Regions from separate parts of the Homo sapiens genome. Here all the other regions are linked to region 1. Evidence: fine-mapped expression QTL. A gene starts in region 1. Each other region holds a variant in brackets. All regions are shown on one strand. Distances are between the middles of the regions. Region 1 holds the start of ADGRD1 (adhesion G protein-coupled receptor D1). Region 2 has its middle 28 kb from the start of LINC02414. Region 3 overlaps ADGRD1 (adhesion G protein-coupled receptor D1). Region 4 has its middle 26 kb from the start of ADGRD1. Region 5 overlaps ADGRD1 (adhesion G protein-coupled receptor D1). Region 6 overlaps ADGRD1 (adhesion G protein-coupled receptor D1).

What was found. PIP is the estimated chance that this variant, and not a neighbour inherited with it, causes the effect.
Region 2: its variant is fine-mapped to the expression of ADGRD1 in whole blood (TOPMed, PIP above 0.99).
Region 3: its variant is fine-mapped to the expression of ADGRD1 in blood mononuclear cells (TOPMed, PIP above 0.99). The same link has a PIP of 0.9 or more in whole blood.
Region 4: its variant is fine-mapped to the expression of ADGRD1 in fibroblasts (GTEx, PIP above 0.99).
Region 5: its variant is fine-mapped to the expression of ADGRD1 in cerebellum (GTEx, PIP 0.97). The same link has a PIP of 0.9 or more in hippocampus.
Region 6: its variant is fine-mapped to the expression of ADGRD1 in whole blood (TOPMed, PIP above 0.99). The same link has a PIP of 0.9 or more in blood mononuclear cells, microglia and spinal cord.

What each region holds. Positions count from the first base shown.
Region 1 is chr12:130,951,320-130,956,390 of GRCh38, reverse strand. ADGRD1 (adhesion G protein-coupled receptor D1) reads right to left here and starts at 2,484. Exons shown (of 25, transcript NM_198827.5): 1 at 1,860-2,484; 2 at 1,731-1,767. The coding sequence starts at 1,925.
Region 2 is chr12:131,617,454-131,622,524 of GRCh38, reverse strand. No RefSeq gene overlaps it. Among named protein-coding and RNA genes, the nearest start is that of LINC02414, 28 kb to the left of the region's middle. RefSeq lists enhancers at 3,939-4,439, 4,440-4,940. The variant G/A (reference allele first, on the strand shown) is at 2,233.
Region 3 is chr12:131,093,585-131,098,655 of GRCh38, reverse strand. All of the region lies in intron 15 of ADGRD1 (adhesion G protein-coupled receptor D1), which reads right to left. Among named protein-coding and RNA genes, the nearest start is that of LINC01257, 69 kb to the left of the region's middle. The variant G/A (reference allele first, on the strand shown) is at 2,729.
Region 4 is chr12:130,925,713-130,930,783 of GRCh38, reverse strand. No RefSeq gene overlaps it. Among named protein-coding and RNA genes, the nearest start is that of ADGRD1, 26 kb to the left of the region's middle. The variant C/T (reference allele first, on the strand shown) is at 1,953.
Region 5 is chr12:131,029,205-131,034,275 of GRCh38, reverse strand. All of the region lies in intron 13 of ADGRD1 (adhesion G protein-coupled receptor D1), which reads right to left. Among named protein-coding and RNA genes, the nearest start is that of ADGRD1-AS1, 38 kb to the right of the region's middle. The variant C/G (reference allele first, on the strand shown) is at 3,108.
Region 6 is chr12:130,978,690-130,983,760 of GRCh38, reverse strand. ADGRD1 (adhesion G protein-coupled receptor D1) reads right to left here. Exons shown (of 25, transcript NM_198827.5): 5 at 1,698-1,877. Among named protein-coding and RNA genes, the nearest start is that of ADGRD1-AS1, 13 kb to the left of the region's middle. RefSeq lists an enhancer at 3,225-4,215. The variant C/G (reference allele first, on the strand shown) is at 2,350.

The DNA of each region.
Region 1 (5,071 bases):
ACCTTTTTAAAAGGAGCTCCCTATGCATGTGGACGAAACAGAAGTGGCAGCGTCCCCACCCCCGAGTTGGTGAATGGAGGTGGTGGCGAGGCGACGATGCCTGGAACATCCTGGCATGGGGCTGCCGGGCAGCCGGAAAGGAGACAGAGGCTGAGGGCACAGCCCCTGGCCCTAGACCCCAGCAGGCTCCTGGTGCTCCATCCAGGAAAGGGGCTCTCCCTGGAGGCCTGGGTATCGCCCTGGGATCTGCCCACAGTGCTGGCCTGAGTCCATTTGTGGTTGATCATTAAAGGCTGGTTCCCAGCCAGGCCCAGTGGCTCACATCTGTAATCCCAACACTTTGGGAGGCCGAGGTGGTTGGATCACCCGAGGTCAGGAGATCGAGACCAGCCTGGCCAACATGGCAAAACCTTGTGTCTACTAAAAATACAAAAATTAGCCAGGCGTGGTGGCATGGGCCTGTAATCCCAGCTGCTTGGAAGGCTGAGGCACAAGAATCGCTTGAACCCGGGAGGCAGAGGTAGCAGAGAGCCGAGACTGAGATCTCACCACTCAACTCCAGCCTGGGTGACAGAGTGAGACTTTGTCTCAAAAAATAAAAACAAAAATAATTTTTTTAAAAAGGCTGATTTCCCATCAGAGACAGGCAGGGCCATACAATAGCGCTCGGGGGGGTGCCCAGCCAAGCTCTGGTGGGGCGGGGGCAGAGGCTGTGCTCACAACAGGCTTCCCAGCAGGGGTTCAGGCACTAGCAGGGTCTCCTCCCCACCTCCTGCAACTTCCAGCAGGGAGCAACAGCCCAGTGACTGCCTGCTGCTCCCAGAAAGCCTCGTCTTCCCATCCCTGCCCCTGGCTGACCAGAACGTGTGCCCACACTCTTAACAGCGAAGGGTGTGTGCCTCCCTGTCTTCCCGAGAGAAGCCCCGTCCTGATGCTTCCTGGTTGGGTGTCACAATGGCCAATGGAATGTGGCTCTGGGGCTGGAGCAAGGGTGGCCCTCTATCCCGAGTCCCACTCATCGGCTGCTCCAGGCTAAGCTGGTCAGCACTCTGAGGCTGGAGGTCCCGAGACCCTGCTATGGGCCAGAGCTCCAACTCCCCACCAGTGAATCTGCCCTGAAGACATGAGATGGGTGTGGTGGCTCACATCTGTAATCCCAGCACTCTGGGAGGCCAAGGCGGGCGGATCACCTGAAATCAGGAGTTCGAGACCAGCCTGGCCAACATAGTGAAACCCTGTCTCTACTAAAAATACAAAAAAAAAAAAAGCTGGGTGTAGTGGTGCACACCTGTGATCCCAGCTACTCAGGTGGCTGAGGCAGGAGAATTGCTTGAACCCGGGAGGCAGAGGTTGCGGCCACTGCACTCCAGCCTGGGCAACAGAGCAAGACTCCATCTCAAAAAGAAAAAAAGGAAGAAAGGAAGAAAGAGAGAAAGAGAGAAAGAAAGAGGCAGAAGGCATTCAAATGAAGATCATATTTCCTTAATCACAATGTTTCATATGACCCAGCTCAAGGGGCCCAGAACCACTTCTCCATCCACCGCTCAGCCGGTGAGGGGTAGCAGAGCTGCCCAGGGTCACAGTGTGTGGTGAGGCAGTGAGGTCGGGGACCAGGAGCCCAACAAGGGCCATTCGCTGATGCCTCAGAGATGAACAAGTGGGCTGTTCCTGAGATACCTGCACTAGGCAGGGGGAGAGCGGTGCTCAGAGTGAGAAGGAAACACTCTTACCTGGATGGTCCTGCGATCTGGAGTAGACGCCACGCACCTGCGCACAAAAGACCACAGTGTGAGACACACTCAGGGAAAGCCTCCGGAGAAACCAAGCCTGTCGCCATCCTGGCCACTTGGGGACATTACCTGAAAGTTGTAATAAAATAGCAGCAGCCAGGAGTACCAGCAGCACAGCCGCAGCAGCTTTTCCATGGCTCTCTCGGAGGTCAAAGCTCGGAGCCAAGTGAAATTCCTGAGGGTCTGTGAGAACGGGACCTCTTAACCTTCACTTCCTTGGAAAAGGGACATTTTCACAGGTTCCAGGGGAGAAAATTTCTGTCTCCTTAAAGTTTGTGAAACACAGCTGTCTTGGAGACCTAATGGGTGTTTCTTCCTCGTCTCAAAACTTGAGATTCTTCAGTGATCAATAAACACGTTGCGATGACCAGAGCAGCTGTGGAATGCAGGGAGGAGAAACCCAAACCCGACTCGCAGTCCTGGGAAAGCAATCCCAGGTCACCACTGTGACCGCGACCTGCGCCCGGGGACGGGAGGCTGTTTGTCCTGCGGTATTTTCTTTTTATTTCAAGAGCCTCCGTTTGTCTCAGTCAGGTTTGGAGCTTCCCTTTTCTCTGAAGAAGGTTTTGTGCGTGGTTTTCCCCTGGAGCGCCCGCCTGCTCCTCGGGCTTGTCCTGCGGCCGCTCTCGAGCTCCTTCTGGTCTGGCTCAAGTTCACACCTCCGTCCTGCTCTCTGGGTGGAGGGGGAGTGAGTGATGTAAGTCTCTCTCCTCAAACTTTGTTCTGTTCTCCTTTTCTATTTATATCCCCACTGCTGTGTCCTTCCTGGGTCCTAACTCCAGCCTCTTAACAACAGCTGAAATATTTCCAGGATCTCAGGCTCAGAATCAAACCAAACAGACATGGTGTGTGGTGTGTGTGCGTGTGCGTGTGTGTGTTACTGATGCCTTCTGGTCAGCACCTTCAAAGTCGGCATAAATATTAATAAATACAAAATGCAAAACAAACCATAAACTCTGTTTAGATCTGAGTCTTGTTTGCCCCCAAAAGAGAATGAAGTTGACAGAGGGATGGAAAAGAGAAAGCAGCACACCCACTGTGCCCTCCATATTAAGCGCTGACCACATTTTTCTCTCTAATCCTTTCGGACGTCAGTGAAAGCTACGGAATTAATTACAAGGTACGCTGCGCAATTACACCATCCCACATATACCCCCACCCCAGCACCAGGAGGATGTTCTCAATGGGATAGAAAAGAGTCAGCCCCTTCGCCAGACATGCCTCAGTTTACCCAAGACCAAAGTTTATCCGATCTACTCCAAATACACGTGGACACACAGAGACACACACCCTAGAATTGCAGTCACAGCTATATTTGCTATGTGATTTAAGTAATATTTACCGCTTCATACTTTCTCCAACATTCACCAGCTGTGCTCCTAGGCAAATTACTTGATCTCTCTTAGTTTTCGAATTCCTCATCCACAAAATGGGGGTTAATAGTTCCTCCTCCTCAGGGCTGTAACAATAAATTAGAGGACAGATCCAAGGCTCTTCAGGCAGTACTTGGAAAATATGTGGCACTCAGTAAATGCTGCTATTTTCTATTAAGAAAAATTATCACTCAGTAAATGTTAGCTATGATTATTATTAGCAAGTATAACATAACACCCAGTAAATGTTAGCTGATACAGTTATCTCAATTGTCCTGACTTTAAATGGGAATTAAGAATCCTGAATCCAACATACTTCCTAAAGAGGATAAGAAAATGACTTCCAATCTCTGTGGGACAGAAAAAAAGAAAGTGCTGTCAAAACGTTAGGTGATTATTTTTAACTTGTGCCTGCAGCCTACAACCGCTCAGATCCTCTGATAGCCTGAGCCTCTCTGTGGAGCTGGAGAAGGGTTCCAGAGAGTTCCATCTCCTAGCAATGGAGAAACTGTGAACTCCAAAGGCCGGGGGCTGTCTGTAATAACGACCTTTATCCTGTTGCTCAGGCTGGTCGGCTTCAGGGAAAACTAATTTACAACCTTTATCTCTGCCATTTCATCAGCTCTCCAGTCCCCCACTGCCTCTCGCTGGAAGAGGTGAAGGGAGGGACAGGCAGCTGCAGGTTTTTCTCAGCTCCAGTTTTAACCTGGAAGAATTCAACAGATTGCTGAATATGCGGACCTTTCCCATCTCCATGACCGAACAAAGCCAGCATGGTTTCTTTTCATCATAAAATTGTCATCAGATAATGGGAGACACCCCGATTCAATGACTGTAATAAAAACTAGATAGCAAAGCAATTCAGCAGAGCTTGCCCTGCAGGCATCTGCACTCATCCTCAGACTCACTCTGACTCTCCATCCCGGACTACAGTCTCGTGCCTCATGCTATTTGCCTGCGTCCTGTCTCAGGCCTTGTTCAGAGGCCCAGATGAAGAGCCCGCCTCCATGTAAAGCAGCGTGTCCTGAAGCCTGGAGATTTGAGACAGGGCCTTGAGTGGTCCATGGGCCTGGAACCAAGCAACTCTGATGTCTCTGAGCATCTCATTCCATCACCCAAACGTCGGGGTGTTCGGCACCCAAACATCACCTTGACAGCAGGTCTCCCTCCCCCTAAAGCCCTCCCCTGCTGTATTTTCTCGATCCCACTAACCACGATCCAATGTACTTCATATCTTAGACGTTTATTTCATTTATTGTCAGTCTCTCCCCACCGAGGCGTAGGCCCCATGAGAGCAGAGACCTTCTTTCTGCCTGTTCGCTCTGCACCCCAGCCCCGAGAACAGGGCTTGGTACTTGGTGAGCACTCAGCGTTTGTCACCAAACCCAGCCTGGCTCTGCCCTCCCGCAGCAAAGCCAAACATGGACGTCGGGATTGCAGTGAGAGGAAGTGAGGCATTTAGAGCAGGGCACCAGGCGAGCAGAACCTGGCAGCTCACACTTCAGACCTGAACTCCCCGATGGCTGATGGGGGAGGGTTTTTCAAGGTGGAGAGGCAGAGGTTACAGGCTAAGTCCCACATGAATAATACCTGGAGGCTGCACATTGGTTTGACCTAAAAAGCTAGGACATCTTGAACTGGGGGCCCACAGGTCATATAGGTAGTAGATTCAGAGGTTTTCTGATTTGTGATTGGTTAAGAAGGCAAGGCTTTGTCAAAAAATTTGAGATCAGCAAAAAAGAATGTTAGCTCTGGCCTGTGGGCATGACCTCCTCCAGGCCCCTCAGGAAGAAATTTAGAACAAAGAACAGTGGTGGGCCCGGAGGGGTGGATCCCAACACTTTGGGAGGCTGAGGCAGGTGGATCACCTGAGGTCAGGGGTTCGAGACCAGCCTGGCCAACATGGCG
Region 2 (5,071 bases), 670 kb before region 1:
AGAAGCTTGTAGAGGAAGGTCATTCTGCCCCGGGTCCCCCAGGGAGCTGGGGCCTCAGCTGTCTACCCTAACAGCTGGGCCTTCTGGCCCCTCCTACCCTGAGAAGTGTGGCCTCTGTTTTTGGTGAGGTCACAGCTGCAGGGAGGGCCAGGGGGCCGGATGCCTCAGACTGCAAACAGCTTCGCCCAATACCCCCTGTTGCGGGGCAGAGGCTGGAGCTAGAAATAGCCCCGCAGTGACCCCCACCCCAGCCACACAGGGCAGGCCTCCTGACCACAGGTCCTGGGCCACCCCTTCCTGCTCACGTGGGAGGGAACCCTGGGCTGGGGGAGGCTGTTCCCCAAACAAGGCCACCTTGTGTAGCTCTCTGAGGGCCTTTTATAATCTCCTTCCCTCCCCCAGGACAGCCCAGCTGCAGCCCCTCCTCACCAGCGACCCCTGGGCCCTTTGCCTCGGGGCCAGGCAAGCGGAGAGCAGAGAGCAGTGTGTGAGGAGGGAAAAAAGCCGGACTACAGGGACCCCAGCCACCCGCCAGCCCCTACCCTGCAGCCTCTCCTGCCAGAGGCCGAGGCTCCTGAGCTGCCCCGTGCAGGGAGTGTGGCCAGGCGAGGCTCCGTGGAGTGCAGGAGCTGCGGCAGCAGGAGAGCCAGGAGGAGGCTGTGGCTCTTGCCCAGGCAAGCAGACATGCCAGCTGTACGCAGTCCTGGGCCACGTATCGTGTGTGGTCTTAGGAAATGTGAGTGTACACTTGGTGCGTGCCTGTGTGTGCCCATGTGCATGTGTGTGTACACAGCCTCAGCCCACATATCATGTGTGTGAATTCAGGAAACGTGTGCGTGTGAGTGCATGTGTGTACATGCGCGTAGGTGTGCATGTGCCTGTGTGTGTTCTCATGTACACAGCAGAGCTGTGGGTCTCAGCCCCCGCTGCAGGCTGGAACCCCCTGGGGGTGTGGTGGATCTGGAACTTGGGAAGCAGCCCGGCAGCGTCGCCCAGAGCTGAAGATCCACTTACCCCGACCCAGCAGTTCCACTCCGGGGTGTCTGCACCACAGACAGGGGCATGTGTGTTCACCAGAAAGTGCTCTTAGCGGCACCGTTCGTGAGCGCCAGCCTGGAAATTGCTGCAATGCGCGTTAATCGTGCAGTGGGCACGTGAGCGGGAATGGCCATGCTGGGCCTCCCTGTCCAGGGGAGCCCTGACCCCCTCTCCCCTGCCCCGGGGAGAGGCTGAGGAGCAGTTTCCAGGCCTGGGAGGGATCTGGCCATCCTGGGAGTGACTGGGGAGGATGGAGAGTGCTGGCTCAGCCCACAGTGACTGCACAGCTCTCCCCGCCGCCTCCTCCTCCAGGAACAACAAGGGCCCTTGTGTCCGCCTCCCCCAGGGACAGTGCCCCAGTGAGGAACAGAGCCTGGCCTGGGAGGTGGCCCCAGGGCAGGCCTGGGTCCCAGCGGTTAAGTCTGGCCTCAGCCCTGGGGCTCTGGGCGGGGCTGCAGTGAGGGGATGGCGCTCTCGGTGCACCAGACTGGAACTTCTGCCCCCTCCCCGGATAGCCAGCTCTGCCACCCGCTGAAAAGGGTCCCTGGGCTGTGGACAGGCACCGTATCATGCTCTGCTATGTGGTCCTGAGGGGGACAACAGATGTCCCTAGGGTCCGTCCAGGACTCACCTGCCTGTCTCTGTATTTCTCTGCCAGGTCACCCCTACTTGGTGCACGTGATTCACAGGTGGGAAGCCACGCCTCCCAATCAGCATATTTCATACTGTGGTCCTGGGATTGGCTCAGGCATGGCCATGTGACCCAAGCTGGTCCAATGAGAATGTGCCCGGGACTTTTTCTGAAACCCCTGGGGAAGGGAGGCTTTGCCTCGCAGTTGCTCAGTTAAGAGGAGCTCTCTGAGGGCCATTTCCAGGCCGCCTTCCCCCATCAGGGACACAGGCAAAGTGCAAGAGCCCTGAGGATTTCCAGGGCTACAAAAATGTTTTAATTTCTTTTAAAATTAGAAGAAAATATGAGCTCTTAGGTCAAAGAAATATTAACCTATTCATCTTTGTACCAGTTGTAAAATAGAAGCTTAAAGGTGATTTTATGGAGGAAGGAGCCCACGAATGCAAAAGGGCCCAGGGCCCATGGAAGCCGCGTGCAGCCCTGTCTCTGCCGCCGCACAGGAGGGGGCCTGAGATGAGGATGGTGAGCTGACGGCCAGGGCCGGGTGAGGGTGACGCCCGGGC[G/A]GTGCCAGCCATCCACAAAGTCCTGCTGTGTGTGTACTGGCGTGGGCAACCTCATCAGAGCCCCACGGCACCTCACCATGATCGTTTCACAGACGGGGAGAGCGGGACCCAGAAAGGTTAAGCAATGCCACCAAAGCCACACTGCTTGAAAGTGGGAGAGCTGGGTCTTGAACATTGAGTTTGGCTGCGGAGTCTGAGCTGGGGAACCGCTGAGCTGCTTTCTGTCTGAGGGCAGGGTTGAGCCTGGGCCTGTCCTGATGCTGCCAGCCCCTTCTTAGGGTGCTCAGGTGAGGGCGTTGGTGAAGCCCCCTTTCTGTCACTTGCCTCCAAGACAGCCCAGATGACACACATGTGGAGCAGGGGCAGAGGAGAGCTGGGCAGTGGCTGCACCAGCCAGGAAGCAGATCCTGCTCCGCCGGGATATCAGACTATGTGGGCTCTGCAGCATTCACGATCCTACACTCCCACTCTGGGGTCTGGTGAGTCCTCCCCCTGCAGCAGGAGAGCAGGCTTTCCCAGAAGGTGAGCCCCACTGCTGTCCAGATGTGTGATGGCAGCTTCCTGTGAGGAACCAGACATTGTCCAATTGTGGGGGGTCTGGCTTCTTGGAGGTTTGCAGAGTGTGGCAGGTGTGGAAAAACTTGAGGCCAAGGAAAGTCCTTTCGAACAGGATTAAGCAGGTGGCATGTTGGTTGTGGTGATTCCAGTACTGTGTGCGTGTGTGTGTGTGTGTGTGTCTGTGTGCATGCACGTGTCTGCACATATGCATTCATGTATGTATGTCTGGGTCTGCGTGCGTGGGTCTCTGTGTGTGCATGCATATGTGTATATGCATTGTGTGCCCATGTGTGTGCACATCTGTGTGCACCTGTTGAGCCAGTTCTGTGAGTCCCCCTGAGGGCCAGGAGGCCGTGGGCAGGGCTGGTCCTGGAGAGCACTTTGTTTTCTTCTCCACACACTTTGGGTTCCCCCGCTGAGTGCACCCCCTGCATTTGGCTGGCTGCTTTCACCCCAGCCCCGCTCCTCCTGTGCCCAAGAACCTCCTCCTCGTCTCCTCCTCTGTCACGCAGCTGGTGCAGCACACCAGGCCTGCACTGAAATGCATCGGGGAGCAAAAGGGAGGTGAAGTCAAACATCCCATCTGCTCCTGTCCACGTCTTCAGGGTCACTGCCAAGTTCTGACACTGCCGACTCCCCACATTGAGGGCAAACAGCCCCCCCGAATGCAAATCTCACTCCTTGTTTGCAGTCACTGAGAAATTCTTTCTGGAAGATGTTTATTGTTTCTCCTTCGCTCTGCAAAATCATCAGTGTAGAGAGGATGTCTTAGGAGTTTCCAGAATAAGGAAACGAAGGAGCAGCGACTCATGTGGGTCCTCTTGGGATGGCTGAATGGAATGCAGAGAGGGGAGGAGAGTGGAAAATAGAGCATGCATTTTGAGAAAATTTCGAGCAGTTTCTCAGAAGCCTTGAGCCTTGGAGGAGGCAGAAAGGGAAATTATTTTCAGCTTTGTGTATGCTGTTTTCCGAGGATAGCACTTGTCTATCAGAGGCTGACTTCCTGAAGACTTTATCTATCAGATTAGAAGCCTGTATGAGAGCCTAGGTAAAAATGCAAATTCCTAGGTCCCAGCCCAGACCCTGGGATCAGAATATGGAGTGTGAGAGACCCAGGTTCTTGCGTCTCTGCAGCCTCCCACGTGATTCAGATGGTCGCTAAAGTGGGAAGACCAGGCTCCTGAAAGAGCGGATGGCATCTGCGCAGTTGAAGCATCGTTTGTCCATTCACTCATTCAGCAAATGTCACTGAGTCTCTTGAGGTGCCAGCGCTGTCTCTGGTGCTGAACCAGGGCCCCGCGCTCACGGCATTCACCTTCCAGTGGAGGAGACAGCTTGTATCTGAGGGAGTCCCCCAGCAGTCAGAAGGGACACGACGGGTTAACTGAAGAGGGCTTAATAAAGGGCAGGGGTCGGGACCGAGGCTGTTTATGCCAAGATGGCAAAACCCAAGAGGTCTGTGGGTGGCGACGTCTGAGACTCTAGCGGCCGCCTGGAGCTTCCGAGGCTCACCAAGAGCAAACCTGAATTGCTTTCCAGGCCACATGTCCATGAACAGCACGTGCAGAAGCAACACCCGGAGGCCTCTCCACTCCCCAGGGGCTGGTGTGGGAGGCGGCCGTGGCACCAGGAGCTGCTGCATCCTGCAAGTGCACTGCCCGGTTATTAGTCATGGATGGCATCCAGAATTTCTCCAGCATACTTGGGCCCACCAAATAGTCACAGCAGCACAAACGGCCCAGCAAATCAGAGGCCCTGAGGGACAGGACCCAGAGCTGGGAGGGTGCACAGGACAAGCCTGGCTCCCTGCGTGCCTGGAGGGTGGCTCCCTCGCCCTGGCCACTGTAACTCCGACTGCCTGTCCTGGAACACGTGCCTGCCATGGTGTGAGGGTACACAGGGTAGCCTGAGCCCTACCTGAACTTCAGAGACCAGGGGCACGGGGGGATCCCTGGGCTGATATCAGAAACAAGGGCATCGGTGCTGGCGAGAAAGTAAGGGGAGGCCCCGGCCCCCTGCAAAGGATCCCGTGAGCCCCCAGGTAGCTGCTCCCAGGACATGGCACTTGGACCCCCTCATCCTCACAGTCTCGGACCCGACTCCTCCACGTAGCCAACACCATAGGATGTCAACAGTGTCTTTAAAGCTATGAGGCTCCCAAACAAACTCTCCTCTTCCCGCCCCAGTCGCCTCCATTCCCAGGACATACTCGGAGCTCTCAGGCAAGCGGGACTGCTGTGGTCCTCAGCCGACAGTCCCGGGGTGCAGCCAGAGACCACAC
Region 3 (5,071 bases), 140 kb before region 1:
ATCTGAGAAAGGCCCTGACCCAGGCCCTTCCCTCTCCCTTGGAGCACCCACCTCCGAGTCCTGCTGGCTTCTCACCACTGGCCATCTGTCCCAATCCTCTTTCTGATGGATTTCTAGAGCCTCTGCCTTGATCTCTTCAGCCTCCTGGGCTTCCCTGGTCTCCCCACAGCACCAGCCCCATCCTCTACCATGTCCCTCCTGGCTTGGGTTCCGCTGTACACTGGAGCCTCGTCCCTCATGGCTCACCCCCTCCATAGCGCCTGAGTCTCAGACTCAAACCCCCATTCCCCCACCATGGCTTCTGAGGCCCCGCATGCTCCAGCCCCAGCCCGTGCCTCTGACCTGCCTCCATCCACCCTCTCCCTTCATCATGGGAAAGCAAGACCCTCCCCGCTCGGGATTGGACTTGGGGAGCTGGTTATGAAGGTGAGGGAAGCCCTGAAAAAGCAGAGAAGGCAGTGAGGCAGCCCAGACAGCAGCCACTGCGGGAGAAGGAAGTGAGGCCCAGACAGCGGCCACCGCGGGAGGACAGTGGGAGAGGGGACAGCAGCAGAGCCAGGCCGGGCCACCAGCAGAAACTGGAACCAGACCAGCCTGCCCAGGTGAGGCTGGCGCGGGGGTGCAGGGGAGGGTCTGCATGCAGGCGCTGGAGCCACAGGGGGACGCCCATGCCAGCAGGAGCCCAGGCAGGAGGCTGGCCCCTTCGCCCACCCCAGCAGCACCATCTCTCCTTGGTTGGACTTGGCAGGAAGCCAAGCGTAGGGCAGAGAGCAGGGTGAGCAGAGGATGGGCTCCCGGGCACAAGAGCAGGAACTCCGGGCTAGGTCCACACTCCACCCCCACACCAGCCCTTGAACCAACCATCTGCTCCCCAACCTTTGACGCCCACCCTGTCCCGGCCAGGCTGGCTCCTGCCTGTCTCTGGTCTCTCCGCGGCTGGCATCCAGGCTCTCACGGGGCCTGTCTCCCCTCAGGGCAGCCCTCAGCCCCTGGCTGGGCTGCACTCCTGCCCTTGGCTCCTGGACAGCACGAGTGACCAGGCCCTGGCGGATCTGTGACTCCAGGCATCCCTGGTTTGGCGGCCATCCCTGGCCGTAGGCAGCCGTAGCATGTGCCAGCAGCATGCAGCCAGCCTCCCCCGGGCTGGGTCCAGTTGCTGGCACATTTCACGTCCACTGATGGAAATGAACCGACAGCCCGGGGACAGGTAGAAATGAGCTGCTTGGCCACTTGAGGGGTGCTGCAGGACGGGAGAGGACTGGCCACAGGCAGGAGATCTTCCCCGAGGACCCAGCTGGGCTGCTGTGTGTTTGAACAGATGCTGGGACTGGCCTGCCTCGGGTCACAGTGACCTTGTTGAAAGTGTCAGCTGGGGGGACCATCACCCTCTTGTTTTCCAGACCAGGAACCCTGGGGGCTCCTGCTGTCTCCCCTGGCCGCACAGCTTGTGCATCAGTCTGGGGCCATCTGGGAAAACAGAAACCACTCCAGCCTTTCAAAGAGTGGAACATTTGACTCAGGGAATTGCTAACCCTCGGGAGGGGAGAGAAAGGGGGACCTCATAGGGGTAGTGAGGTGGCCCAGGAATGAGCCTCGCCACAAATCCCCCCGTGGAAGCCAGATCCATAGACTGTCCAGCAGGGCTGCAGCCACAGCAGAGGCGTGGCCACTGCCCAAAAAGCCACGTGTAGGGGCGAGAGAAGAGCTGCTGGGCCTCCTCCCCTCCCATCACCTGCCCCAAGTGACAGACCTGCAACTCAGCACAGTGGTCGGCCGTGGGAGGCAGAGCCGGGCAGCAGGAGGCAGGTGGATCTCAGAGCAGAACCCAGGACTCAACATGACTGGGAACTCAGGGCTGAGTCCCCACTGTGCCCCAGACGATGGCTGCTTTAAACAGTTGTGGCGATGTAAACCTGGACTGGCAGTGCCCCACGGGAACCCATCCTCACAGATGGAGGCGGGATATAAAACTGGACCGGCAGTGCCCCACGGGAACCCATCCTCACAGATGGAGGCGGGATGTAAACCTGGACCAGCAGTGCCCCACGGGAACCCATCCTCACAGATGGAGGCGGGATGTGTGCATAGGATGCTGGTTATTTGCTGCGGCCAAAGACCACCATGACTTCAGTGTCCACCCGCGGGAGAGCTATGCAGTGGTTAACACGGGAGATGTGGCTCTGTGTACCCTGAGAAGGAGCAACCTCCAAGATACGTGCATACATTTTTTAAAGTGTGCTATCTTGCCAGGCATGGTGGTGCACACCTCTAGTCTCAGCTGCTTGGGAGGCTGAGGTAGGAGGATCTCTGGAGCCCAGGAGGTCAAGGCTGCAGTGAGCCAAGGTGGCGCCACTGACTCCAGCCTGGACCACAGCGTGCAACCTTGTCTCTAACACAAATAAATTGTAAATAAAAATAAAGGGTGCAGTCTTTATGCTTCACTACCCTTTGTTTAAAGGAAGGTTTGCATCCATTGAGGTACAGAAAATTTTAAAAACAAACAAAAAAAGAACAAAGAGCAAAGCGGGGCCCCAGGCTCAGCAACTGCGTCTGGAATGACAGAAAAGCAAGCGCGTGTCTAGGCCGCTGCTCTGGGCAGGGCCGGGAGGCAGGAATGGTGGCCGTGACCCTAAGCCGCTGCTCTGGGCAGGGCTGGGAGGCGGGAACGGTGGCCGTGACCGTCAGTTTCCACACTCTGCCTTCTGTGTTCTTGCATTTTCCCACATGC[G/A]TGTATCATCTTTACAAACAATTCAACCTACAGAACCCCTCTGTCTCCTGACACCCCAGCTTCCTGTATGTCCCAAAAAGAACCCTCGAGCTCCTGTCCCACTCCTAACACGGGGGCTGGCGGCTTCTCAAAGACGGCCCACATCCCCACTCTAATTCCCAAGATTCAACACACTCATGACAAAAAATACGTGTTGACCAGAAACCTGGCCTGCTTCAGACGTCAAGCCCTGACCACAGCCTTGCAGCCCACAGCTGCCCCGCAAAGCGACCCGATCCCTCGGCCGGGCTATGCGTCCATCTGCCCTGGGAACGTCCAGTCTGGCCCCTGACCATGTTCCCAGTCCTGGTCACCCGGCCCACCCTCAGCCCCACAGAGTAAGACCCCAATTCTGAGGGTAGCCCCGAAAGAAGATCCCCCAAGACAGGACCACCCCAGAGGCTGCTGCAGCTCCCTCTGCAGAGCGGCTCCAGCCCAGCACACTCCAGAGCAGACACTTCTTCAGGAGAATTAGGGAATAAATGAAGCAACATATGCTTCTCCTCTAAAAGGAGCAGCCTGGGTCTGGTTGGAGGAGGCAACGGCAATTGAATTTGTCAAGAGGGGCAGGGGTGGAACCCTCAGAACCTTGAAGCTACGTCTCCCTGCCCCCAGGACTGCAAGGTGCCCAGGCAGGGCTGGGGCTGAGCTGACAGCAAAGCTGAGTCCCGGCAGCAACTGGCTGCTGCTCCACCTCGAAGTGCAGGTTTTTACCTCTTAGGCCCATTTCCCAATGTCCCAGGTGGCCAGCAGCCTGAGAGTCGGGGGGACTGAAGGGAGAGATGGGGGTGGCAGGTGTCAGCCCTGTTCCCAGGGCTCACTCAGCTCTCCACTCAGAGAGGCACAGGCCACAGGGTACAGGGGAGGGCCCTGGGGGCTGAGAGGGGGCGTCTCGAGGGAGACTGGAGGGGCATGGGAAGGGGTGGGTAGGGCAGGAGACGGGAGGGGGTGGAAGGACGCATGCCCCTGCGCCTCCCCCGGGTGAGCTCCCAGCTCCCATCCCCAGCCCAGCTCTCAGCAGCCCAGGACAGGGCTCAGGAAAACTCATCTGTAAGGCGGGGCGGGAACAGCGTGCACCCGTGCACCTGGAGGGCTTGCTGGTGGAATGGTAAGGAGCCCATGCAGAAGGACCCAGCAGGCTTTGCCCACCACCCTCTCCTTCTGGAAGAACTGCACAGGCTGGGAAATCAGAAGGGATGGTGACAATTTTCTGGGTCTCTAAGAGGATGGTACTGAGGATGCATGCCCTCCCCACTCAGCCAGAAGACACTGGTGAACCACAGTATTGCTTGGGGAGTCGGGGGGGCGCTGCTGAACAAACCAACTTCCTTGTTACTCCTGGGCAAGGCAGGACCCTCTTCTGCCTCCAGGATTAGAGGGGTCCAGGGATGGGTGGAGGGGCCTCTCCTTGGAGCCCCTCCAGCCTCCACAGTTACCCCCACCCCCATCAACAGGGCAATAGACCGTCCTGCCCCGGTGCCCACAGCCACAGGACTGAACCTTCCTTATGAAGAGTGAATGGAAGGAGACTTGTGGCCATGAACGGGTCAATGCTGGGATGGCTGCAGTCCCAGGTGCAGTAGCCAGGCCTGCTCCACCCCACCCCACTCCCACTCCACTCTCAGGGGTCCTCAGGGCCAGGACATCCCTAGGGACCTCATACTCATGGCTCACTGTGACTTCACTCTGTCAGGCAGTGTTTGGGGCTGGGTGCTGAGGCTGGGTACTGAGGCTGTGTACTGAGACTGGGTGCTCAGGGCTGGGTACCGAGGCTGGGTGCTCAGGGCTGGGTGCTGAGACTGGGTGCTCAGGGCTGGGTGCCGAGGCTGGGTGCTGAGGCTGGGGACTGAGGCTGGGTGCTGACGCTGGGTGCTGAGGCTGGGTGCTCAGGGCTGGGTGCTGAGGCTGGGTGCTCAGGGCTGGGTGCTGAGGCTGGGTGCTGCTGAGGCTGGGTGCTTGGGCCTGAGCTGTGCTTACTTCTGCCTCCTCATCACCACCACAGCTCCACAAGGAAAGGGTCCCACCCATGTCACAGCGGGGAAACTGAGGCTCAGAGCAGGCACCTGCCCAAGGCCACCTGGCACATCACTGGGAGGGACCTGTGTGTCCAGCTGGCTGGGAGGCAGAGGGGCCACTACTAACCCCAGCTGCATGCAGGAGGTGTTATTGGGAGGTGGTCTGGCTAACATTCACACAGAGACCCCGTGGAGGGAGCCTGTTTCTGACTTGAGCTGTACATGCTGCGGCTGCCGGCACTGCAGTTGGCACAGTCCCGCCTGTGACACACCCTCGGGACCGCAAATA
Region 4 (5,071 bases), 26 kb after region 1:
AGTGCACTCCAGCCTGGGCAACAAGAGTGAGATTCCGTCTCAAAAAAAAAAAAGAAAGAAAGAAAGAGAGAGAGAAGGCTGAACCATTGATTATAACCAGCAGAGCCAGTTGGCAGCTACTGTGCAGCCAGCCACACGTCTCATTGAGACCTGCAGGAACAGCCAGTAAATGAGTGGGAATGGATGACCCTTGCACACGACCCTGCTCCAAAATCAGAACTGTGTCTGCAGCCCACCTTGTTTCCCTCTGGCAGAAAAATAACCTTGAGCTGTGCAGCTGCTGAGCTGAACATCCAGAGGACTGAGCACACCCAGACCTGTAAGTGCCACAGAGGAAGCATGGAATGAGGAAGCTTTAGCTCATCCTGGAAGATGAGAACGCACACCTGAAACCATGACCTTTTTGAGATTTTTAATAACGAGCATACTTTTAGACTGCTCTTAGGCTCTGTGTCTCTGAATTTATAGAGAGAGAGACTCCTCAGTCAGGCAGGCTGTCCAGTGGGGCCAAGTCTTAATAAAGGTTAAATCACCATCCCCTTCCTTCACCATCTTCATCTCATGATCAGAGACAATGTCATCCTCATCCTCAAAGTGATCACTGGTGGGGCAGCCCCCTGTGCCAACCCTGCCCCGAGTGCCAACCTGCAGGCATCTGCTGATTCCTTAGGACAACCCTAGGAAGTTTATGCTATTTTATTTTTACTTTTTGGAGACCAGGTCTTGCTCTGTCACCCCCGCTGGAGTGTAGTGGTGTGACCACAGTTCAGAGCGGCTTTGATCTCCTGAGCTCCAGTCATACTCCTGCCTCAGCCTCCCAAGTAGCTGGGACTACAAGCATGTGCAACCATGCCCAGGGAATTTTTTAAAATTCTTTTGTAGAGTGAGCCACTATTTTTAAAACCTTCTTTTAAAGATGAGGAAACAGAAGTTCTGAGAGGTAAAGTAGGTTCCCCAAGGCCAGTTTGTGAGTGGAGGATTAAAGGTTCCAATGCAGGGAGCCTCACTCCAGCACCTGCGTTCTTAACCACTCCACCACGTCCTTTCCGTATGTCTAAACATTCTGAAAGAAAAATATTTTATAACAAAGAAGTGCACAGTAGAGTTTCTCATTACCTTGATATTATATTCTGTGGTCCGTGAAGACATTATCATCACCAGACACGTGACCTGTGGTCACCTCTAACTCAATTCTCTCACACTCGCATCCCAGACAGACACAGAGGCTCACAATCACGTGCACCACAAAGAGGATTATTTTTACGTTTTTATGATGAGTTCATGTGCAGCTATTCAAAGGCTTTGGAAACCTTCCCATCTCATAGCATCTTCAAGAGAATGTTTCTTTCTTTAACCCATGGAAAAAAAAAAAAAAACCTTCCTAGTCCGACCTTGCTCAAGTCTTTTTGACAATAGTCCCTGTTCCTCGGTCGCAGTAACAAAGAATAAAAATGGGTGGCCAAGACACCCAGCCGTGTCCTCGTGAAGAGAGAAACAGCACCACTCACACTCCACTCTGCCTGATACAGTCAGAAGCATCTTGGGAGAATTTCCAATTTGACAGTCGTGTGGAATGAGAAAATAAATGTGCAGGGAACAGGTTTGTAAGAATTTACATCCAGCTTGTGCAACATGGCAAAACCCCGTCTCTACTAAAAATATAAAAATTAGCCAGGCATGGTTGCATGCACCTGTAGTCCCAGCTACTTGGGAGGCTGAGGCAGGAGGATCGCTTGAGCCCAGGAGAGGGAGGTTGCAGTGAGCCGAGATCGCACCACTGCACTCCAGCCTGGGCGATAAAGCAAGACCCTGTTTAAAAAAAAAAAAAAATTCCAGGACTCATTGTTTTTTCTATTTGAGGGGAAGGAAGGATGACGTCGGGGCAATTAGATGTAAACTTTTGGCAGGAACTCAAGAATGACAAGTACAAGAAAACTCAGGAAGGAGTGAAA[C/T]TTCTCCATATGCCACTCCCCACAAACTAGAGTTAAAACCATGGCAAAAATGTGTTGCCAAATAAGTGATGCTATTGCTGCATAAATACGAAGCATTGCTGGGTTTGTTGTTTTCTGTGTGTGTGTGTTTTGCTGTGTTACCTAAGCCAAATATGAACTAATACACAAGGACACACAGTAACCATGAATGCAGTCAGACAAGTAATGATTTACGCTGTGTACAGATTGTGACGTTTTTGGTTCTTTGCAGGGTCGGAATAAATAGAGAACAGAGGCAGAGCATCCAAGAAGGAAAAACAGAAGCTCCTGGCAGATGCTGAAACCGGAAAGAGGCATGAGAAGACAGCAATGGGATCTGACACTACGGCCCTGTCTGTCAGGGCTATGTCAGTTACCAACCCATCTGATAGAAGCAGAAGGAAAACAAACTGGTCCGTGGAAGGAAAGGCCAGTGGTGATGCTGGCTGCAGGCACAGCTGGATCCAGGTGACATCCTGGGGTTCAGCTTTGCCCTTCTATTCAGACCCTTTCCTTGCTGCGGATGTTTACAAATAGTGCCAAGCCTGGAGTCACTCTCTGACTTGTCTTAATTATGTCATTAGACCAGCTTTTCTTTTCTTTTCTCTTTTTTTCTTTTCTTTTTTGAAACAGGGTCTCCTGTCACCAAGGCTGGAGTGCAATGGTACAATCACAGCTCACTGCAGCCTCAACCTTCTGGGTTCAAAGAATCCTTCCACCTTAGCCTCCCCAGTAGCCAGGACCACAGGCGTGCACTACCACACCCAGCTAATTCTTTTATTTTTTGTAGAGACAGGGGTCTCACTATCTTTCCCAGGCTGGTCTCGAACTCCTGACCTCAAGTGATCTACCCGCCTCTGCCTTCCAAAGTGCTGGGATTACAGGCATGAGCCACCACGCCTGGCCTATTATTACTTTTTTGAGACAGGATCTTGCTGTTTCGCCCAGGCTGGAGTGCAGTGGTGTGATCATGGCTCGCTGTAGCCTCGACCTCCTGTCTCTACAAATTTTTTAATTTGTAGAGACAGGGTCTGGCTATGTTGTTCACAGGGCTGGTCTCAAACTCCTGGACTCAAGTGATCCTCCCACCTCAGCCTCCCAAAATGCTGGGATTACAGGTTTGAGCCACTGTGCCAGGCCTCATTAGACCAGTTTTCTGACAAACGTGATAGAGAAATCATAATCATTTTCTTGTTGGTTAGTAAGGAATAGAATAGAAAATAGCAACTCATTAATTCAAGCAAGTGAATATGTAGAAGAGGGGGTCCACATAGGGGAGAAGGCGGCCATTTTTCCAAGAAGGAACTCTGACTTGCTGCAGATATTTAGGGGAAAATTCCTAAAATAATGGGGATTTTAGGAAGCTTGGAGAAATTCAAGATGACCTATTGCCAGGTAAAGGAAGCAAGTTGTCAAAATGTATGAATTTGAGGCTCTAGAATTCTCCAAAAGCTTTAGAGTGGCCTAAATAACCTGATTAATATTTTTCAATCCTGGGTGGCAGTATATAGAATACACGCCACTAACATGGGAAGAGTTCCAAGACATGCCACATGAAAACAAAAACAAAACAAAAGAAACAAGTTACAGAACTATTAAGATCATGCGATATTATTTACGTACAGCATATACATAAATGACATCTGGGTACATATTATGCAAAGGCATAGGGAAAGTTCTGGAAGGATAGGATGCAAACCAAAAGAGAATATACTTCTGGAGAATGGAGAGAAGGGCCAGAAGTCACAGGTCTTTACTGCCCAGGGGTGTACCTGGGACTATTCTACAGTCCCAGCTGCTTAGGAGGCTGAGGTGGGAGGATCACTTGAGCCCAGGAGTTCAGGGCTGTAGTGAACTGAGATTGAGCTACTGCACTCCAGCCTTGGTGACAGAGTAAGACATTGTCTTAAAAAAAAATTAAGGCCAGGTGCAGTGGCTCATGCTTGTAATCCCAGCATTTTGGGAGGCCAAGGCGGGAGGGTCACTTGAGGCGAGCAATTTGAGACCAGCCTGGGCAACAAAGTGAGACCTCATCGCTAATAAAAATAGAAAAATTAGCTGGGTGTGGTGGTAATTAGCTGAGTAGCTGTAATCACAGCTACTCAGGAGGCTGAGGCAGGAGGATCGCTTGAGCCTGGGAGGTTGAAGATACAGTGAGCCAAGATCGTGCCACTGGCACTGCAGCCTGTGTGACAGAGAAAGACCCTGTCTCAAATAAATTAATAAAGTTTAAAAAAAGAGCTCTCTAGCCTTGTTGCGACATTTTACATCTTCACAAGAAGAATGTATCCAGCCAATGACTTAAATAATAAAAATTCTTTTTTTTTTTTAGATGGAGTTTCACTCTTGTTGCCCAGGCTGGAGTGCAGTGGTGCGATCTCGGCTCACTGCAACCTCTGCCTCCCGGGTGCAAGCGATTCTCCTGCCTCAGCCTCCCGAGTAGCTGGGACTACAGGCGTGCACCACTATGCCCAGCTAATTTTTGTATTTTTAGTAGAGACGGGGTTTTACCATGTTGTCCAGGATGATCTCTATCTCTTGACCTTGTGATCTGCCTGCCTCGGCCTCCCAAAGTGCTGGGATTACAGGTGTGGGCCATTGTGCCCGGCCAAAAATTCTGTTTTATAAAAGTTTCAAGCACATCTTAAGGCTTCTCATTTTAAGCAACCAGCCTGTGGCACTCTTCTTTATTATACATTCAATTCTTCATCCATCTTTTGTTTTTCCAAATCTGTGTAATTCACCCTTAACAACATCTCAGCATTTTGCAGAGCGAGAAGCCCGGCGGGAAAGCACGCTCCTCCCAAACCACATCAACCAAACATATCCCTTACTTTCACGCAGAACTGTAAAACAAAGAGTATTCTTTACTAAGTTAGAGACTTTAAAATAGCAGATGAAAGAACGCCGTGTTCTTCAAGATTCCGACCTCTCTCCTCCTCTATCTTTAGCATGAAGTTCCTAGGATGCTGTGAATCACTGCTTGTTTGGGACCAGCGTCAGCTGACCTGTCGAAACAGCTGCCTTCTGTAGTAAGAAACCGGCCTATGTTTGGAAAACCACAAGTCTCTTATTTTTCATTGCCTGGTTGGCACTTGTTG
Region 5 (5,071 bases), 78 kb before region 1:
TGCACTTGATGTGGCGCAGAGCAAGGCAGACGCATGGCGGGAGCGGAGTGGAATGGGCGGGGAGTGGCCCAGAGTGCGGCAGGGTGGGCAGGGGAAGAAGGGCGTGTAGATCTTACTTGAAATGCAGAGGAAGCCCCGAGAGGGTTCGAGCACAGGGTGACACCACCTGACGGCCACGTCGAATATTACTCTGGCTGCTGTGTGCAGCTGGGGGCGGCTGGGAGGCTGGCGCTGGCCTCCGGGGTAGACAGTGAAACCAGGGGCAAGGCTGGTGATGGTGACGATGGGTACCGGTGGAAATCGGACGTGAGCTGCAGGTGGAGCCGGCATCCCCCGGGGAGGACTGGCAGAGGGTGGAGCTCTGTCCTGCCAGGAGTGCCGTGAAAATGCACAGACGCTCACACCTAGATCCTGCAGATACCACGTGTCCCCAGCCTTCACCCACGCGGCTCAGGGAAGCTGCTTCCCCCTAGCAGACGCAGCAGCCGTGGAAATGACCACAGAGGACACACGGCTGTGCAGCCCTGGTTGGGCACCTGCTCCAGGGACCTGGCAACCACCACATCCCGTGCCCCTGCAAGCCCCTGTGGCCACCCAGGCCCACGGCCTGCCCCTCCAGGGCCGGCTCCAGTCCACTCCACCGGGACCCAGGCCTGTCAGCCAAGGCAAGAGGGACACACACTCCCGTCTTCACTGAGAACCTGCCTGGCTGCCTCCGTCACTGCACACCTGCGCAACCCAGCCCAGCAGAGGACAAGAATTCCCTGCGTTCAGGGGGCTCCGAAAAGACATAAGGAACCCAACCCTGCATGCCACGCTCTGAGCGGGAAGGAAGGCCGCATGTGGACGCCTGTCCTGCTCACTGTGCCTCCAGGGCTCTGACGGTGCTGAGCACAGATGTGGTGCTTGGGCAGTGCTTGTGGGGTGCATGATGGAAGGGCACCCTGGCCCCAGCAATGACCAGCTCTAGAAACCCCTCCGGCCTGGAAGTCCTTCCTTCCCACCCCACCCCAGCCCCTGCCACACAAAAACAAGACAATCCCATCTGGACACAGCTACAGGGGACCCACCCAACGGCCCTGCCCGCACAAAAAAAGAGCTCGGGCAGGGCCAGCCTGGTCTGCACACGGAGGGTGGGCATGCAGGAGACCCAGGGCACTGCCTGGCACGAGCCATGAATGTCCTGGAGGGCAGGGCGGGGCTCGTCGCGCGCCATTTAGCTCGGGAGGAGAGGAAGCTGCAAATGAAGTGGTCTCTGTGACGGGGTGGCGATTTCTCTAATAAGCGTCACCTCTGTGACGGGGTGGCGATTTCTCTAATAAGCGTCACCTCTGTGACGGGGTGGCGATTTCTCTAATAAGCGTCACCTCTGTGACGGGGTGGCGATTTCTCTAATAAGCGTCACCTCTGTGACGGGGTGGCGATTTCTCTAATAAGCGTCACCTCTGTGACGGGGTGGCGATTTCTCTAATAAGCGTCACCTCTGTGACGGGGTGGCGATTTCTCTAATAAGCGTCACCTCTGTGACGGGGTGGCGATTTCTCTAATAAACGTCATCTCTGTGATGGGGTGGCGATTTCTCTAATAAATGTCATCTCTGTGACGGGGTGGTGATTTCTCTAATAAGCATAATCGTCACTGCCCCACCATAGGGAGAGGAAGCAGAGGGGCCCTGGAGGAAGCACAGTGAGCAACCACGTGGAGCTGCAGAGCCCTCTCCGCTCACTGCTGTCCTAAGAGGGCAGCCGAGAGTTCGTGTGCAGGTGCTGGCACCCGGGCCTGCAGCAAGAACACTCGGGGAAAAGGCCACACAGCGGTGGGGGACGTGTCAGCGGAGGCATCGCATGTACTTCCAGGGTACCAAAGTGAGTTGTGAAACCTCCTACTACGCTGAATTTTCAAAGCAGGCGTCAGAACCCGTGAGATGATTCGTGCTCGTGGAGGATCTAGGCGGGGTCGCGAGTGGCACAATAAGCTGTGGACCTGTGAGACTGTCTTTGAATAGAGCTGTTTTGTGAGCTCTGCCTCCACCGCCAGGGTGGAGAGGGAACGTCTGCCGCCTACTGAATGCCTGTGTAGCCTAGGAGAGGGCTTCAGTAGAGCCTGGGGGAGCCCTGTGTGCCCCTTGCGGGGGACAGGGTTGGAGCTGGTGCCTGACACTTGGAGAAGGACATTTGGGCTGTGTCTCAGGGCTAAGGGCTGCATTTTGGAAAGCAATGTCACCCCCTCTATCTGTGGGGCACAGCGGCAGGAACCCCAGAGCCAAGGGTGGAGGCTGCGATAGGAGAGAAGTCAGGCTGGTTCATCTGAAGGCCTCCCTTCCGGGGCAGCAGTTCACCAAACAGACACAAATGGCTCCCCAGCTTCCCACAGGGAAGGCAGGTAGGCACCTGGCATGTGCGGGGACGAGGCAATGACACCTCTCAGGGTTTCCGAGTGTTGGCAGAAGTGACCCGGATGTTTGGTATGCAGAGCTGGCCCCTGGGGAGAAGCCAAGTCACTTCCTGAGGTTTTGGGGAGACAAGGTGTTGACACCCAGGCCCAACCCTGGGGGCACAAGAATCAAAGACACAGAGATCCATGGAGGTGGCCCTGGGGGTCCAGTACAATGGGATGGTGGAGAGGGGCCCCAGAACTCCTGCAGCCTCAAGGGGAGGGGCAGGTGGGTGACCTGGTTTAAGACCAGGCCTGAAGGAAGGGTGGGGGGGCCGTGTTTGCTAATCCTGGAACCTTGGGAAAACCACCGACAAACGCAAATCTGAGAAGCTGTGAGCAATGGGTGACTCGTCGACAGAACCGCATGGGTGAGGGACTGCATTTATGTCTCAAGCTGTGTAAATGGTCATCCCAGCAACAGGTCAGAACTCACCCCATTCCAGTCATGCCCCACAGTCTCCCCGAATTCTCCTGCACCTGGGCTCAGACCTGCAAGAGGCTAAGCCAGGCCTAAAGGGATGAAGGCCACCGTCCAGTGTTTGAGCCGCACCAGGGCAGCACGCAGTACCCAAGGCTGCCCCAGACGTGAGTGGGCTCCGCTGTCAGAGCCCCCAACAAATGACATGGCGCAGGAAGGGAGGGTGGGAGGCAGGGAGCAGCTTCGACAGGAC[C/G]CCCCAAGGCAGCAGAGCTTCCGGCAGTGGAGCTCAGAGTTGAGACCGCCCAGCCCCTGGCTCCCCGGGGCCCAGTGTGGTGAGTTGGGATGAGGTGTTGCCCTTCCTGCGTTCCGGGCTCCCATGTGGCCTGTTCAGAAACCCTGGTGAAAAGAGCGGCCCTCGGTGGGGGCCCTGGCTGTGGGCGAGTGCTCCTCTGGAAGGAGACTCCGACACACTGCACATTGTGACAGAGGTGGCTGTAACCAAGGCGACCCCAGAACAACAGGCTGCAGATGCGGCTCAGTGTCTCTCCTACACAATAGCTGACCTGTGCTCTGCACACCCCGGCGTATTCAAAGCGATGAGCCCTCAGCCGCGGGTTAAAGTACTGGTGTCTTCTGTTCTTTACAGTCTCAGTGTGCCACATTGAGGTGTCACGCGCCACACTCCATGGCATCCACGCTACAGATGCCAAAGGCCACGGGAAAGCGAGTTCGCCATTCTGCTGAGGTGGGCAGGCTACTATTCCCCGGGACGTGGCTGACACCCCTCACCTGCCCCGATGTGCAGCTGAAGAGACCCCTCGTCCGGCCTTGGCCTCAGGGGAGGGACGATGTCCAGCAAGCTTCTGTCTGACCCTGTGTCTGCCACATCAACTGGAGCAGAGACAACTGGATACAGAAAATCCCATTCACCAAGGTGGGTGCCCTCAGGAGGAAGGGCCTGCGCACGCTGCAACGTTGGGGATGCATTCTGAGATCTAGCTGCATTCTCGGAGATAGAGCCACTGCCCCAACAATTTCAGCGGCACAGTCTGGAAGGGCTCCCCACAGATTCTTAATTTACCCTCTGCAGCTGACAAAACACAATCCCCACCCTCCACCAGAGGGGTCCACAACCTAACCCCAGAGCCTGGGAATGTCACCTACGACGGGTCCACAACCTAACCCCAGAGCCTGGGAATGTCACCTACGACGGGTCCACAACCTAACCCCAGAGCCTGGGAATGTCACCATACGACGGGTCCACAACCTAACCCCAGAGCCTGGGAATGTCACCGTATGAAGGGTCCACAACCTAACCCCAGAGCCTGGGAATGTCACCTACGACGGGTCCACAACCTAACCCCAGAGCCTGGAAATGTCACCATAAGAGGGGTCCACATCCTAACCCCAGAGCCTGGGAATGTTACCATAAGAGGGGTCCACAACCTAACCCCAGAGCCTGGGAATGTCACTGAACGAGGGGTCCACAACCTAACCCCAGAGCCTGGGAATGTCACCGAACGAGGGGTCCACAACCTAATCCCAGAGCCTGGGAATGTCACCGAACGAGGGGTCCGCAACCTAATCCCAGAGCCTGGGAATGTCACCGTTAAGAGGGGTCCACAACCTAACCCCAGAGCCTGGGAATGTCACCGAACAAGGGGTCCACAACCTAACCCCAGAGCCTGGGAATGTCACCGAACGAGGGGTCCACAACCTAATCCCAGAGCCTGGGAATGTCACCATACGAGGGGTCCATAACCTAACCCCAGAGCCTGGGAATGTCACCTACGACGGGTCCACAACCTAACCCCAGAGCCTGGGAATGTCACCACATGAGGGGTCCACAACCTAACCCCAGAGCCTGGGAATGTCACCGAACGAGGGGTCCACAACCTAATCCCAGAGCCTGGGAATGTCACCGTACGAGAGTCCCACAACCTAACCCCAGAGCCTGGGAATGTCACTTTACATGGCAAAAGGGACCTTTCTGATGTGGGTAAATTAAACGTCTGGAGGTGGGAGGTGATCCTGGATTAGCCACATGTATCCAGTGTGATCCCAAGGATCTTGACAGAGGGAGGCAGGAGCAGAGGAGGGGGAGGCACAGAGGCTGGGGTCAGGGGAACGGATTCGCACTGCAGGTTCAAGTGTTCATCCGCACTGACTATAATAGTCAATATAAAAATAAGCCTGGTAGATTACAGCAGCAGGCAA
Region 6 (5,071 bases), 27 kb before region 1:
GGCTTCTTGCTCAAGATTGTGCAACTTTCTGATAATTTTGAGTCTCTGGAGCACGCTTGGACCCTAGGTTGGTCCAAAGTATTATTGCCCCTGAGTTTGAAAGTAAGAATAACAAACGCCTTCAATGCACAAAAGAGAGCACATTGCCAGCCAGAAGTGTTTCTAATTCTCGCCCTTTCCCTGGGTGGAAAAGCAGCCAGAGTTGAGCATACTTTACCTTTGTTCAAGGTCAAAGAACCTAATGGATGCCTGAAACCACGTTCCACCAGCCCCAAGGAGCAGAGAGATAAGCTGCTTACAATCGGACTCTGATAGCAAGTGGAACAGGAAGGTCACGGAAAAGGTTCAGATGGTTCTGTGTCAGGGGAGGGAGGCAGAGATTATTTCTGACCTTAGGGATCACAGAGGGCAAATTTGAAGTAGATGTTTGCTGAACTGCCCCACTTTACAGAGGTGGAGGTACAAGCTGGTCCGAGCACACCGAGCATCCACAGAAGAAGGCAAACACCTTCTGGGCCCACTGTGCCATCATTCCACGCTTTATGCCTAGCAGCCCACTTAGTTCTCACAGTCACCCTATGATGTGATACTGCTATTACTGCCATATTATGAATGAGGAAACTGAGGCATAGGGCAGTTAGGGAAGGTGCCCAGGTTCACACAACTACCAACGTCCAGAGGCGGGATTTGATCCAGCCTGTTTGGGTCCAGAGTTCACGCTTTTTAATAACTGGGCCATGCAGCCTCCCTTAAGAATGAGCCAGAAAATGGATTTCCCTTAAATACATCAAAGATGTTTCCTACCGGAGGAGATCATCCTAGGCTTTTGTGCTGCCCCCTCCACCTCTGCCCTTCCCTTGTTGGGCTCCAGTCCTGACTTGGCCCCCACTCCATGCCACCCTGAGTCCTTCTGTGTCCCCAGCCACCTGTTCCCCTTCTCCAGCTTCCACTTCAGACCTTCGTCAGCCTCTGCAGCCTACTGCCCCACGTCCATGTCTCAACACCCACCTGCAAACTCAGCCAATGTGCAGGGACTCCTGTTCTCTTCCCACACATCCAGGGCCCCTCCCTCCTCCAAGACCACGCACAGTCCAGTGCTTCATGCGCTCTCCCCTAGCCCCTTCCTCTGCTCCCCGATTCTTCAGCCTCTCTCTCCAAAAGCTTCTTCTCGTCATGCTTTAAACAATTTCAAGTCTATACCACTAAGAAGAAGGAAGAAGAGGAGGGGGAGGAAGAGAAAGAGGAAGAGACAAAGACTGTGAGAGAAAAAGGAGGCAGATGAGGAGGAAGAGGGAAAATGAGAAGGAAAAGAAGGAGAAATGTAACCACTGCTTGCACTTTGCACACCATATCTTCAGCTTAATGTCCTGGAAACCGTGAGGTAAGTACTGTCAATATCATCTGCACATCACAGGTGTGATCACTGAGGTCAGTGTGGTCAGGTAACCTACAGCAGGCACACAGTGCACGGGCAGACGGAGCCCAGGCTCTGCACCAACCAAAGGCGGCTTACCAAGGGCACCTCCTTGCCTCTCCCCATGCACCTCCCCAACAACCCTTAAAGGAAAGGAGCTCGGGTGCCAGGAGGCAGCAGCATCCCTGGGCTCCTTGGGCTGCGTTGGGCTTCTCAGCGTCCATTCTCAGAGAAGACTCCACTCCTCCAGGCAGAGCCTCCCGGGACCGATGCTGTCACTCACCTGGGGGGCTGAAGGAGGCCTCCCATGTCATGGAATTGTCCCGCGTATACAGCTCCACAGAGCCTCTGCCACCGCTGGAGCAGACTTTGAACCCATTGGAGATGACCTGTCCCCCATACGCAGAAGGGATTGGTCTAGACTGTTCTCCTTGTGTCTTCCAGAAAAAAGAAAACGTGACCCCTGAGGAAAGTCACAAGATCAGTTATTCACAGAGAGCAGGGGACTTGACTTCTCGCAAGCACATGGTTCTCTTTGCTTTTTATTTTTCATTCGAAAAGCATTTTGTCCCCATTCTAAAGGCAGTGTATGTTCAGTTCAGAAAATCCAGACAGTGATATTTGCTCATGTTTATTAAGGGCTCACACAGTGCCAGGCACTTTTCTAGGAGTTTGAAATGAATTCTCGCCTTTTAAAAAGTACAAAAATCCTGCTTCATCCCCACTATACAGATGAAGGAACTGAGGCTCATTCACTCAAGGTCACCAGTGACTGATGAAGATCGCTGCAGCCCCAGGCAGTTCCCCGCCCCCACTCCCCGGGATCATGCAAATGTGAAGACCTACACCCTCCAGGTTTCTCTCCTATTCCTCCAGAAATGTGGTTAGGGCGGCTCCTTCCTAAGCCTCTTCTATAAATAGATTTTACAAAGACA[C/G]GAACCATCTCAGGCACACTGGTTTATAAACAACATTTCTATAAAGTTTACTCCACCGTGAACTTCCTCCGATGTCCATAAATACACTGTCACGTTGTCACTTTTATGTCTGCACAGCGGCGCATTCTAAACAAGCACCACAGTCTTTTTTTTAAACAGCAATCCCCTGTTGCTGGATCTTAAGGTTTTCTTCCACTTTTTGAAGAAATTTTCAAACAGAACTTGAAGCAAATTCTTTTGCATATCTCAGACTATATGCCTTTAGGATACATTCCCAAGAGGGCATTTCTTGCCAAAGGGAAGCACACTTTTAAGGTTGTTGATATCTTCAATTGTTCATTTCCCGCAGTTGGATACAGAGGGGGCAGCAGCTGAAACCTTTTTCAAGACTCTAGTCTGCACATTCGTGGTAAGTCCTGACCCCAGGCCCACGCTGCGGGGGAGGAGGGATTGCACCTGGACTAAATGGTCTGAGCGACGCATGTTAGCATGAATGAGCTGGCTCATTAGTTCATGTTGCCTCCGCCACCAGCAGCAGATAGGACATACCTCAAATGTGTTGTGGCAGTATATTACAGTAAATTATGACAATTAGATATTGTACCTTTGTGGGTGCAAAGTCCTACTGTGATCAATGTAAACATGGAAAAACAATGTAATTTTTATGATCCTCATGTGGGATTTCTCCATGTTTTTACTATAAGAGGAACTGCAGGCCGGGCGCGGTGGCTCACGCCTGTAATCCCAGCACTTTGGGAGGCCGAGGCAAGTGGATCACCTGAGGTCAGGAGTTTGAGACCAGCCTGGCCAGCATAGTGAAATGCCGTCTCTACTAAAAATATAAAAATTGGCCGGGTGTGGTGGCATGCACCTGTAGTCCCAGCTACTCAGGAGGCTGAGGCAGGAGAATTGTTTGAACCACGGAGGCAGAGGTTGCAGTGAGCCGAGACCACGCCATTGCACTCCAGCCTGGGCAACAGAGCAAGACTCTGTCTCAAAAAAAAGAGGGTCCAGGCATGGTGGCTCACGCCTGTAATCCCAGCACTTAGGGAGGCCGAGGCGGGTGGATCATGAGGTCAGGAGATCGAGACCATCTTTACTAACATGGTGAAACCCCGTCTCTACTAAAAATACAAAAAATTAGCCAGGCGTGGTGGCAGGTGCCTGTCGTCCCAGCTGCTCAGGAGGCTGAGGCAGGAGAATGGCGTGAACCCGGGAGGCAGAGCTTGCAGTGAGCCGAGATTGTGCCACTGCACTCCAGCCTGGGCGACAGAGCGAGACTCCGTCTCAAAAAAAAAAAAAGAGGAACCGCAAAAGCCCAGCTCCTGAGCATGCCCCGCACCCACCCCGACCGCTGTTCTGCACTCACACCCACTGGTCTGGGGGCCGGGCTCTCTGCTGAAGGGGAAGTCAGGGCAGGGCCTGGCTGGAGGCTCTGTGGAGCTTGGGCCTCTCTGGCGTTGCATTTTGGAGCTCTGGTTGTCTCTATTCCACTTCTCTGCCTCCAGTAGCATCTGCCCACCTGGCCCTTCTTTGTGTGTAAACTCCAGTGTGTGTGTGTGTGTGTGTGTGTGTGTGTGTGTGTGTGTGTGTGAGACACTAGCTGCCTGTCTGGATTCTGCCCCTGACAGCTGGAAATACATCCAGCTGCCTCACCCCCGCCAAGCCTGGCCCAGGCACATGGGTAAGAGGGTTCAGTGGTGCTGAGAGAGAACACGTGCCCAGAACTGGTCCAAAGAGGCCCATGATGGGACGGTGGGTGCAGGGGAGAGGCAGAAGGATATTTGCCCTGGGCTTTATTTCTATAAATGGTGCCAAATTTAGACTTTAGACCTTACCTTCACATGAGGTTATGGACACAGTCTTAGAGAGTCACTGAATTCAAAGAAGACATTTGTCATTCGTGTATAAGGCAGTGTCTCATTGCCCACCATGCTTTCTGTGATGCCTTATGAATTAACATATCTGTTAGAAGTCCTTCAAATGTCTTGTGACAATATATCAAGACAACTATACCTTTGTGAGTTCAAAGCCCTCGCAGGATTCAGGAAAAACACAGCATACATTTTATAACCCTGGTATGGAATTTCCCCATTTTATTTTTTAAGAGAAGAAGAACCTCAAAAAAATTGGAAGAGGCCTGGACCTTTCTGGACCTCTGAGAGGCTACGGGGTACAACTCCAAGCCCTGCGGCATCTGTCCTTAGGGCTCCTGGGAAAGAAAACAGCCTTCCCGAGTGCCCAGTAATGTGGGTTACCGCAAAAGGGTGCGACTGTGGGGGTTGCACAGAGGCCTGGGGCAGCTGACGCTGGTGTCCCCAGACCTGGCTGGCACCACCCACACCCACCTCATGAACGGGCTTCCTGCAACACCTGCCTTGGGCGCTGAGGGGTACAGAAGCCAGGACAACCCCCCGAGCCTCCCGCCACTTCCCTGCCTTGGGCGCTGAGGGGTACAGAAGCCAGGACAAACCCCCAAGCCTCCCGCCACTTCCCTGCACACTCAGAAACAACCCGTTTCACAAGGAAGTCAGCACAGTGCGTTGTGAAATTTTTGTTATGAAACAAATTCCCAGTAGGATTCATGGAAGTTAATTTTTTCCAAAAACTTTGCTGCATTTTAAAATTTCTTTCACTCAATTCAAAATGAGCCTGTCTTGGCCAAATGTCTTTCTGTTCAGGAAGAAAAATAAAAATAAAAAAATTCCATGTGGTGTTAGGT